Homo sapiens: one gene and its partners. The protein of the gene in region 3 purifies or fractionates together with the protein of the main gene of each other region. This does not show direct contact. Each region holds a gene or a part of one and is shown on either strand. Other genes may lie near its edges.

Region 1 (3,637 bases), on a different chromosome or scaffold from region 3:
TCTCCAGTTAACATCTGGGGAGATGGGTTTCTGGAGAATAGAACAGCTCAGCAGTGTTCACTCAGCAGGTTAGCTGTAAACCGTGATCAGACTCTAGGTGACTGAACTCCAGCCATACGGTTAAAAAGACCTGCGTATAGTGGGAAAAGCATTGATTTGGAGCAGACCAAGGTTGAAATGCCAGCTCTGCCACGTGCCAGTTGCATGATTCTGGGCCAGTGAAAGCACCTCTATGGACCAGTTGCTCGCCTGTCAAGTGGGGATAATGACACGCACATTGTAAGGCTGTTGGGAGGATGGGATGAGAGAGAGTGGATGTGGCACTGAGCACAGAGAGTGTGCAGCAGGTGGTCCACCAGGAATGTGCACTGAAGATGGCAGGAGCCCTGCTGCCCTCCTTCAGCCTGGGAATAGAAGCTCTGGGAGTCCACGGGTTCCAGTCAAGCTCAGGAGGTGCAGAGGTCAGGCCAGAGATGTCAGGCTGGGGCCAGAGGGTGTGCAGGCTGGGCTGCTCTACCATAGCCCAGCTTCCCTGGATGACTGCATGTGGGTGAAGTGGGGTTTGACTCTTCTGCACTCATGATGACACCATGATGTGCAACTCCAGCCCCCTCTGAAGTCTCTGTTGATAGATGTGTACCACACTTCTTGGCTTACAATATAGACCTGGACACTTCAGTAGCCATTGCCTTCCAAGAGAATTTATACCAATAGGATAAAGAGTTCTACTAGGAATTAGAGGTGGGCAGATTCAATTCGACACCCTCTTGATATGCTAAACGTAGCACCTCTTTCCAGGCACAGTGTGAACATATGTCAGTTCAGTAGGTAGGTGTTGAGGCTCACCTTGTTTACAGTCTATGCAGCTTGCTCAATTCACAGCAGCCCCCTTGGTGGCTGAGAGGAGGGGAGAAAGCTTAACCAGATTCCCGTTGTACAAATAGTCATAAGGTGACTTTTGAATTTGTGTGAATTGATTGACATTAATGAAAATGAGTGGGTGACCTTAGTTCTTCCTTGCCAAAGGATTCTTTCTGGTCAAATCCTGCCATTTCTATATGACAATGCAATTTGCTGGGAAGACGGGGATGTGTGTGCAGGGGTAGATGTACCCTGGCTATACCTGGAGCACAGGGACTTATTGGCTACACCTGGCCATCAACAAGATCATCCACCTGGAAGTCCATTAGAATGACCTGGGGCTCCAAACACACCCTGCCCAGGCCCTACCCATACATTCTCTGTTTGGCCTGGTGGGGCTTGGGCATGTTACGTTTAAAAAATCTTGAGTGATTCTGAGGTGGAGTCATGGCTGTGGCTTCGCTGTGGCATTCTGGTCTGCGTGGAGCCCTGAATGGCAGGGTTTTACGGCAAATGCAATGACTGCCCAGGGGCTTCTAAGTGACCCTGACCTTTTTCCCAAGTGTCCCACCTCTGAACAAGCCTCTGGCTATTTTTGCTTCCTCCTTTGCCACTAAGGGAGCTACTGTGAAAAAAAAAACAAAAACAAAAAAGAAAACTTGGTATTTGAGAGAATCTGGGTTGCCTATGGAGGAAGGAAGGAGGCTCTAGAAGACAGAAGGAGGGGAGCAGATCCTGGCCAGGTTCCCAGGCTGAGCCAGACTGCCCTGGAGACCACATCCACCACCCACGAGAAATGCCCATCCTAGGCCAGTGGGCCAGTTTTCCTGGCTTTTCTCTTTGCCATGCCCTTCAAAATCCCACCAATCTATAATAACTGGGTTAGTGTGAGCTGCTTCTTCCATCTTAGGAAAATTCCTGTAAGCATATCCTTAGGTTATTTTCCCTCTGACCCCTGCTGAGAGGAGGTGCCCCAGGGAATGAGGAGGGGGTTTATATCGGTATAGGGGCTCCTGGAGGGTTCGCAGGCCAGTGTGGAACGTACAGCTGCATGGGGCTCAGGGCAGGCTGAGGAGGGTCAGGAAAGAGAGGCCCTGGGAGAGGGAGGGTCAGGGCACTGTACTCAGAGTGCAGCCGAATGAGACCTTGCCTGGCCCTGACACCAGGTGAGAGAAGGGAAGGTCATTTACTTTTCTGCCCTGTCTCTGGGTCCCGCTCCTGGGCTCCAAACTCCAGCTACTTCCCTGACTCATCTGGTTTACCTGGGTGCATGGAGCATGTGGTCATTGTGGGATTAGGCCTCAACCCACTGTGCAGTATGGGACCTGCTTGTCTATCGGGAAAGCTCTCACAGGCTTTGCTGCCTAAGGATGGCGGTGAGGTACCGGAGCTGCCAGGATTTCTCTGCAGGCCCCTCAGTGAGTGTCTGATCCACACGTTCTGACAGAAGGAAGGTGAGGTGTGCAGGAGGCAGGGGCAGTGAGGACAGGCTGTGGAGTTCCTCACCTGGTACAACTGAGTCATGAAGGAAGAATCGGGCCTTGGTGAGAGCTAAGGGGCTACTGTTCTCTTCCAGATGCGTGAGGGATGACACCTACGGACCCTACTCCTCGCCATCTCTTCGCATTGCCCGCTTCCGGTTCAGGGCCTTCCACTTCCTGAACCGCTTCCCCTCCGTGTACCTGCGTTGTAAAATGGTGGTGTGCAGAGCGTATGACCCCTCTTCCCGCTGCTACCGAGGCTGTGTGTTGAGGTCGAAGAGGGATGTGGGCTCCTACCAGGAAAAGGTGGACGTCGTCCTGGGTCCCATCCAGCTGCAGACCCCCCCACGCCGAGAAGAGGAGCCTCGGTAGGTGGTCGCTCTCAGACCCCACTGTCCACCGGGGCGCAGACCCCTGACTCGGGGACTTGGGATGTTCCTCTTGGTGTCATATTCCAACTCAGATTGAGCCCTACATTGTGCTGCACCTGGTCATACGGAGTTGAATCAGACCTGGTTCCCGCCTCCCCCAAGGCTCATGGTCCTTGGAGGACCCGTTGCAGGGTGAGGTCAAGAGAGTTCTGACCTGGATGGCCCATAGACCTGACGTCCCAGAATCCATGCTTCTCATCTGCAAAATGAAAATGTCAATACTTACTTCTTAGCACTGTTGAGAGGGTTACTTACATAAAGGAATTTTGGTGAAACTGCCTCAGCCTGTTCCTGGTGCAAGTCATTGAGTGCTTGGTAAATGGTAGTTTTTGTTACTCCTGTTGTTGTCACCCATGTTAACAACACCAATGATGACAGTATTCCTCACAACGATAATAACTATAACAGCAGACGTGTTGACATCAGGGTCTAGACAGGGCCATGGGGACGCCAGCTGCATGGATTTGTCCTGATCGCTGGCAGGCTCTACTGGGCACAAGCTATGTCACTTTTCTTCTCCAGAACAGGGAGTGCATCTGCTGCTGTGCTGCTGTGTTGCTGTGCGGCTGTGCTGCTGTGTTGCTGTGCGGCTGTGATGCTGCGCTGCTGTGCTGCTGTCATGCTGTGCTGCTGTGATGCTGTGCGGCTGTGCTGCTGTCATGCTGTGATGCTGTGCGGCTGTGCGGCTGTGCGGCTGTGCGGCTGTGCTGCTGTGTTGCTGTGCGGCTGTGCTGCTGTGTTGTGGGCATGGACGAGGGAATGAATGTTTGCAGAGTGATGCCCAGGATTTCTGGCCCAGTCTGGGGCTAGGTCAACAGATGTGGTGGCCATGGTGTTGGGGGTGGGTGGGGCAGCAGTAGTTGT
Region 2 (3,654 bases), on a different chromosome or scaffold from region 3:
TCTCACCTTCTCTCAAAAGAGCAATCAGAGCTGAAGAAGCACAAAAACCACAGAAAAATAAATGCAGCGATGTTGGGGGAGGGGGGTTGGTTATAACTTTCATTAAGCTCTGCTAAAAAGCTAAAGATAACAACGTTACCTCTTTGGGGTAAAGGTTCTTGTAGCCTTTCCCATGGATTAAATATTTTATTATTATTCCCTAAAAAGAGGCGTAAGCCATTGTGAGCTTATTTATTATCTCCATTTTCCAGATGGAGAAAACAAAGCACAGTGAATCTCAACGCTATGTTTAAGAACATTTGGGCAGAGCCATAAAAATAACCAAGGCTACTGGCTCGGATGTTTTGCTGGGTCTGTCAAACCACATTTCACAATATGACAACATTTTTGCTTTTAAGAGATCAATTTTGTAATAATAACAATGTTCTCTTGTCTATTCCCATAGGTGTTTTATATTTCAAGTGCTTACCTGCCTAATTATAGCAACTCAACAATGTAATCAACTCTCCTCTACGTTTTCCCAGATGAGTAAGTATTTTTTTGCTCAGCTAGAAGGTTTAAATTTAGCTGAGGTCATTATTTGAAGATCAATATTCTTTCTCACAGGTTCTAAGATCCCTATTTCCTCTCCCCCGCCTTCTTTATATTATGTTTAATACATTGGTTTTTAAATAATATTTCAGGATTTTTCATTGGTTATTGTGATTTGGACATATAAATAAAAAAGTATGTATAACTAAAGATTAGAACTTGACTACAGATTTCATATTGGTAGGATTTGTACCTGATAACTAAAAGATAACATCGTGTTTTGCATGATACTTATCAAGGTGGGCTACCTCTGTCTAAGCCAGGGGGCTGTCACTGTTTACATACAGATAAGATGGTGAGAGAAGACGCAATAAGATTGACAGCTACATATTTAGTTGAGAACTCTGAAACCCTAAATGGAATTTTCTACGGTCTTTAAAAATGTTTATTCTAGCCTGCATAGATTTAAGGTGTGTAACGTGATGTTTTGGTATACTTATCTTGGTAGACACATACACAGTAAGGTGGTTACTGTTGGTCAAGCAAATTAACATACTCACATCTCATATCGTTACCTTTCTTTTTCTTTCTTTCTTTCTTCATTTCTCTCTCTATCTCTTTCTTTCTTTCTTTTTTGTAGGAAGAGTGCCTGAAATCTACTTTCTTGGCAAATTACCAGTATACAGCACAATATTATTAACTATAGCCCTCGTGCTGTTTAGATCTCCACTTATTCATCCCATATAATTGCAACCTTGAACCCTTTGACCTATACCTTCCTCTATAGTTTTGATAAGAAATAGACCAAGTTCCTCCTAATCTGGTACCTTCACTATAGTATATGAATGTGAGTTGCTTACTTCGCAAAGTGCAAGTTAAAAGTCCTCTTATTTGTTACAAATATCTAAAGGCAAAGTGAGCTCTGAAAAAACCTCTTGAGGTTAGAGTGCCAAACATTCAAGACTGAGCCCTATGCTCCAAACAAACATTATTGTTAGTCTATGGTCTTAAAAAGCTTTTGCTCTATCATTAAAAAACGTCTGGTCTGTGTGTATAGAATCTGTGACATGAATACCATGGAATCAATATAACTGTGTAGTTTTCAAAACTTGAGAATTTCTGACATCTTCCTCCTACAGTCCCCAACGCGTAAGTTATTAGAAAGCTGTGTCATAAATGACCTTTGGGACTTGCTCTTACCTTCATTTCTGCTGAGTTCAATGTCAGCAAACAACCCAATCTTGATGACTTGCCACAGAAGTCCCAGGACCAGATAAGGCTTCCCCTCCTTCAGGTCCTCAGCCCCTATGTTGACCACATGGCACCCGATGGCTGAGGCAGAGTTCAGAGCCAAGTTCAGATTTTCCTGAGGGAGAAAATGTATGCAAGTTTTTGTTCTATGACTTTGTAGATGCCAAATAATACCGATGGCAACAGTAACAATGTTTTCCTTCTGCGAAGGTCACAGGTTTAGAGTCATGGTCTTCACTCATTTTAACATTGAGAAAAAAACAGTGACTCATAACCAGAAGAGAAAATCCAGTAACCCAGACACCGACCACTCATGCAGTGGTCCATTCAATCAAACCAGCACCATAAGTTGAAGGCCCATTCTGGTTGGCATGAGACTGATGAGGCCTATATTTTTCCATCTTGCTCTGTGATGAAGCTGACACACAAAACATCTCTATTGGCCAAAAATAAAGGGACACCTTTGAGAAAGTCATTGTCCTGTCACTGGCCATCATGAATAAGACAATTGTTGATGTAAATCAAGATCATAAAAGAGAGTAGCAGAAGAGCTTTTTGACTTGAAGATTGGGTGTTAAGAAAATGAAAAGGCTGGCACGGTGGCTCATGCCCATAATCCCGGCACTTTGAGAGGTCAAGGCGGGTGGATCACCTAAGGTCAGGAGTTTGAGACCAGCCTGACCAACATGGTGAAACCCCATCTCTACTAAAAATACAAAAATTAGCTGGGCATGGTGGCAGGTGCCTGTAATCCCAGCCACTCGGGAGGCTGAGGCAGGAGAATCTCTTGAACCCAGGAGGCAGAGGTTGCGGTGAGCTGAGATCATGCCATCACACTCCAGCCTGGGCGACAAGAGTGAAACTCCATCTCAAAAAAAAAAAAAAAGAAAACGAAAATGAAAAATAGATACGATTAAAATTCCTGGAAAAGATGGAATGGTTTTTGCTAGGTTGATTTGTTGAGTATCTGTAATAACTAGGGAACCTGAGTATACACACACATACTCATAGATTCTATGTTCTTATGAGTAACAACAATGCAGGTAATGTAACTCACATATAGTCGAGATAGAGTCAAGGGAGTTTTCAGTCCAGACTCTGTATGTACTATTCTTGAGTTTAAAAAGGAAGAGATATCAATGTCAGAGATGTATAGAAATTGTTTTAATTGGCAAATTAAAAACAAAGCAAAGGCCGCCAGTGAATTAGGAAAAGAACTATCAGAAGAAAAGTGGGTCCTTGTTCTAGTGCTTAAATGATGAGTGAAAAATACTGTTTCTATATATGGTCAAGATTATGAGTAAATTTAACATTAAGTGCATTCATATGTGTTTAATCATTGTTCTCAATTTGGTTACCATTTCCATTTTTAAAGTACACAAGGTTGCTTAAATCCACACAGGAGATAATGTATCGTTCATGATTTAAGAAGTTAGATATGGTTTCTTAGCAAAAGAATTATGATAATGTTAAAATATTGGAACACAACACAGAAATACACTTACTGCTGGTTACTATTCCAGTTAATCAACAAATTGATGGAATAAAAGCAAGTTATATTTATTATACTCGTGGCTGTGGCCAAAATTACTATGAAGGCTGCCAGAGTACTTCCCGTTTTTCACCCCCTCGCTTCTTAGAAAGGCTTATGTTTTCATCTAAAATGCTGTTTATTTGGCATCAAATCAAAGATAAATTGCTAAGGAAAGCTTGAGTTAAAACTTTAGCCAAAGTGAATTTTATTCCTAAGTGGCCAAAACAAACATACAAAGCCCCAGCTGCTACCACTCCACCAGTCTCCCTTCTTTGCTGCTCAGAAATGTATCCCTTTATCCCTGAAGTATGACAAGTCACCAGCCCAAAGCCTGGGTT
Region 3 (3,654 bases):
ACCTGTAGTCCCAGCACTTTGGGAGGCCGAGGCAGGCGGATCACTTGTGCTCAGGAGTTCCAGACCAGCCTGGCCAACATGGTGAAACCCTGTCTCTACTGAGAAAATACAAAAATTAGCCGGGCGTGGTGGCGGGCGCCTGTAATCCCAGCTTCTCAGGAGGCTGAGGCAGAGGAATTGCTTGCACCCAGGAGGCAGAGGTTGCAGTAAGCCAAGATCACACCACTGCGCTCCAGCCTGGGCGACAGAGAGAAAAAGAAACTTGTCAGCGTTCTAGATTGACCAGTTTTCCTCAAGGTCAGGTAGTTAGGAAGAAAGAGTGCAGTTTGCAGTTGTGAAAAGTCTGATAATGGATTCTTTTTTTCTTTTTTATGCGTGAAGGGATTCTGGAGTACGTCTGGTCTAAAGGCCGATTTCGTTTTAGGAACTTTGGATCAGAACAGTCATACTAGTCCTCAGAGAAAAAATGGTTTTCAATCTGGTTCTTCAAATTTCTTGTTCATATAACCAAGCCATGCTTGTTCCTATGATGGAGAACAATTGTGCTTTAAAAAAAGAAATTTCAGGGCCAGGTACAGTGGTGCGTGCCTGTAGTCCCAGCTATTTGGGAGGTCGCGGTGGGAGGATGACTTGAGGCCGGGAGTTCCAGACCAGCCTGGGCAATATAGTGAGACCCTCATCTCTTAAAAAAAATAGTAGTAATAGTTAGCTGGGCATGGTGGCGCATACCTGAGTTACCTGGGAAGCTGAGGCAAGAGGATCACTTGAGCCCAGGAGGTCAAGGCTGCAGTCAACCACAATCGCGCCACCGTACTCCAGCCTGGGTGATAGAGCGAGATCCTCTCTATAAAAAATAAAATAAGAAAATGATATTATGGAAATGAAAAACTCACCCTATGTAGAGAGAAGAGGATGAATCTGTGCAGCCATCTACCAGCCTTATTTTACCAATTTCCTACTTAAAATGACCACTTGAGAATTCCTTTCTCTATATATCAGATAAAAAATACTTGGGTTTTTTCCCAGAAGTGTCCTTATGGAATCATTTGGCATCTACAACCCAGTGCTTGCTTGTCATGGGTACCCCAAGTGTTAACCTGTCAGGAAGGAGGTAATTCAACAGGTAAACCAGTGGCCAGGCCTTGGGTCCACATTTCATTTTCCTTTTCTCAGCCTAGTTCTGCATTTACTCATCTACAGAGGGAAATAATGACGGAACCTGTCCTACACGATGACGATGAGGAAGACTCCAAAGTTCCTAGACCCCTATTAAAAATATATATTTTTTGAAATACAGACTCACAGGGGATTTCAAAAACAGTACCTGGAGTCTCATGGACCCTTCAGCCAACTTCCCCATGGTGACGTCTTCATATCCGTGGGACAATATCAGAACCATGTCATCGATGTTGGTATATCCTTATTAAAGAGAACACATACCTCGTTCAGCTTTTTTTTTTTTTTTTTTTTGAGACAGGGTCTCACTCTGTTGCCCAGTCTGGAGTGCAGTGGTGCGATCTCGGCTCACTCCAGCCTTGAACTCCTGGGCTCAAGCAATCCTCCTGCCTTGGCCTCCCAAAGTGCTGGGACTATATACAGGCATGAGCCATCGTGCCCGGCTTGTTCAGGCTTTATTAGTTTTCAAAAGGTGCTCATTTGTGTTTGCGAGTGTGTGTGTAGAGTTCTGTGCAGTTTTACCCAGTGTGTGGATTTGGCAGCTACCACCCTCCAAACCATGGTGCAGGATGAATTCCCTCACCACAGAACACCCCTCGGTCTTGCTCGACACTTTTTTTTTTTTTTTGAGACAGAGTTTCACTCTTGTTGCCCAGCCTGGAGTGTATTGACCACAACCTCTGCTTCCCGGGTTCAAGCGATTCTCCTGCCTCAGCCTCCCGAGGAGCTGGGATTACAGGCATGTGCCACCATGCCTGGCTAATTTTATATTTTTAGTAGAGATGGGGTTTCTCCATGTTGATTAGGCTGGTCTCAAACTCCTGACCTCAGGCGATCCGCCCGCCTTGGCCTCCCAAAGAGGTGGGATTGCAGGTGTGAGCCACCGTGCCTGGCCAGACACTTTTTTTTTTTTTAAACTTTCACACACTATACAATCTGAAAATATTTTATTTTCTTAAGAGCTAGGAGATCTTCATAATTAATGATACATGGTTCTCAGATCTAAAGTGCTTATACTGGTAGGTTTTCTCTTGTCCTTGGTTCTCCTGAATTGGCCAGAATTTCCTTTCCTCTCCTTGTTGCTGGGTTCTTATTAATGCCTCAAGTTAGTCGGTTCAGGCAGTTGTAGCAAAACACCACCGACTGGGTGGCTTATAAACCACAGACATTTATTCACAGTTCAGAGGCTGGAGGTCCAAGATGAAGGCATGGCAGATTTGGTGTCTGGTGGGGACCTGCTTCCTGGTTCATAGATGGTGCCTTCTCGCTGTGTCCTCACATGGTGGAAGGGGTGAGGGAGCTCTCTGGGGCCCCTTTATAAGGGCAGTGATCCCATTCATGAGGCTCCAACCTCACGACCTCATCACCTCCCTAGGGCCTCACCTCCTGACACCATTACCTTGCAGGTGAGGATTTCAACACAGGAATTTTAGGGGGACACAGACATTGAGTCCACGGCATCCCCACCCTGTCTGTCACACAGCATGCTGCCGGGACGAATGGCATCTGAACTGGTGAGATTCTACTGTGTGCATAAATCAGCAGCCTTGTGGGCAGTGTTGACATAGCAATTAGGAGTGTTGTTTGTAGCCTAACAATACACAGAAAGTGGAGCTCAGCCCTTTGATCTTATTTACCTTATGTGGGTGCTCCGTGTGAGACAGGCTCATGCATGTGTGAATGACAGTTTCCTTTAAGTGCATCACGCAAATGCCAAGAGATGAGATCAAATATTACACATCAGAGAACATTTCCAAGGATAGAAGTCCTGCCGGTTTCTCCTCTTCATTGTTTATTTCATTTTATTTTTTTAATTTAAGTTAAAATACATGTTAAATTAAATTTAAGTTAAATTAAGATACATGTGCAGGACTTATTTTAAATAAAAGAGACAGGGTCTCGCTGTGTTGCCCAGGCTAGACTTGAACCCCTGGGCTCAAGCATTCTGCCTGCCTCCGCTGCTGGCACATAAATGCCAAGTGTGCAGGGACCTCTGTGTGTTGGAGCCACTTTCATCTCCCACATCCAAAGAACAGACCCGGCACTTAGTGTGTGCCCAAGACCATCCACCGCATGAATAGAGAAATCAACCCTCCTCATGTGCCTGGGGTTTCCTGAGGTGGGAAACCTTCAGTGCTAGCTGGGAGAGTCGCAGGCAGAGACAGGGACAAGCTGGTCACTCTGTGTGTGAATAAATAAATGAATGGATGATGGCATTATCGGCAGTTGTTCTTTATGACACTCACTGATGCCAAGTACTGGACGGGTACAATATGTACATTAGTTTCTCTATGGGCAGAAGCTCCACCATGACAACATTAGTGTTATTTTCTTTTTGCTTTTTTGTTTAGAGACAGGGTCTTACTCTGTCGCCCAGGCTGGGGTGCCGTGGTGCAATCAACAGCTCACTGCAGCCTCGACCTCCCAGGCTCAAGCAATCTTCCCACCTCAGTCTCCCAAGTAGCTGGGACTGCAGAC

The links.
Region 1: the proteins of PRKX (region 3) and DMBT1 purify together in Homo sapiens (affinity purification with mass spectrometry; one large-scale study listed by BioGRID and IntAct). This does not show direct contact.
Region 2: the proteins of PRKX (region 3) and LCP1 purify together in Homo sapiens (affinity purification with mass spectrometry; one large-scale study listed by BioGRID and IntAct). This does not show direct contact.

Annotation. Positions count from the first base shown.
Region 1 is NC_000010.11:122,640,685-122,644,321, forward strand, and holds the end of DMBT1 (scavenger receptor cysteine-rich domain-containing protein DMBT1 isoform e precursor), read left to right. Parts: intron 1-2,437; coding exon 2,438-2,714; 3' UTR 2,715-3,052; downstream 3,053-3,637.
Region 2 is NC_000013.11:46,151,049-46,154,702, forward strand, and holds part of LCP1 (plastin-2), read right to left. Parts: intron 1,898-3,654; coding exon 1,732-1,897; intron 31-1,731; coding exon 1-30.
Region 3 is NC_000023.11:3,707,000-3,710,653, reverse strand, and holds part of PRKX (cAMP-dependent protein kinase catalytic subunit PRKX), read left to right. Parts: intron 1-3,654. UniProt on the Homo sapiens protein: Serine/threonine protein kinase regulated by and mediating cAMP signaling in cells. Acts through phosphorylation of downstream targets that may include CREB, SMAD6 and PKD1 and has multiple functions in cellular differentiation and epithelial morphogenesis.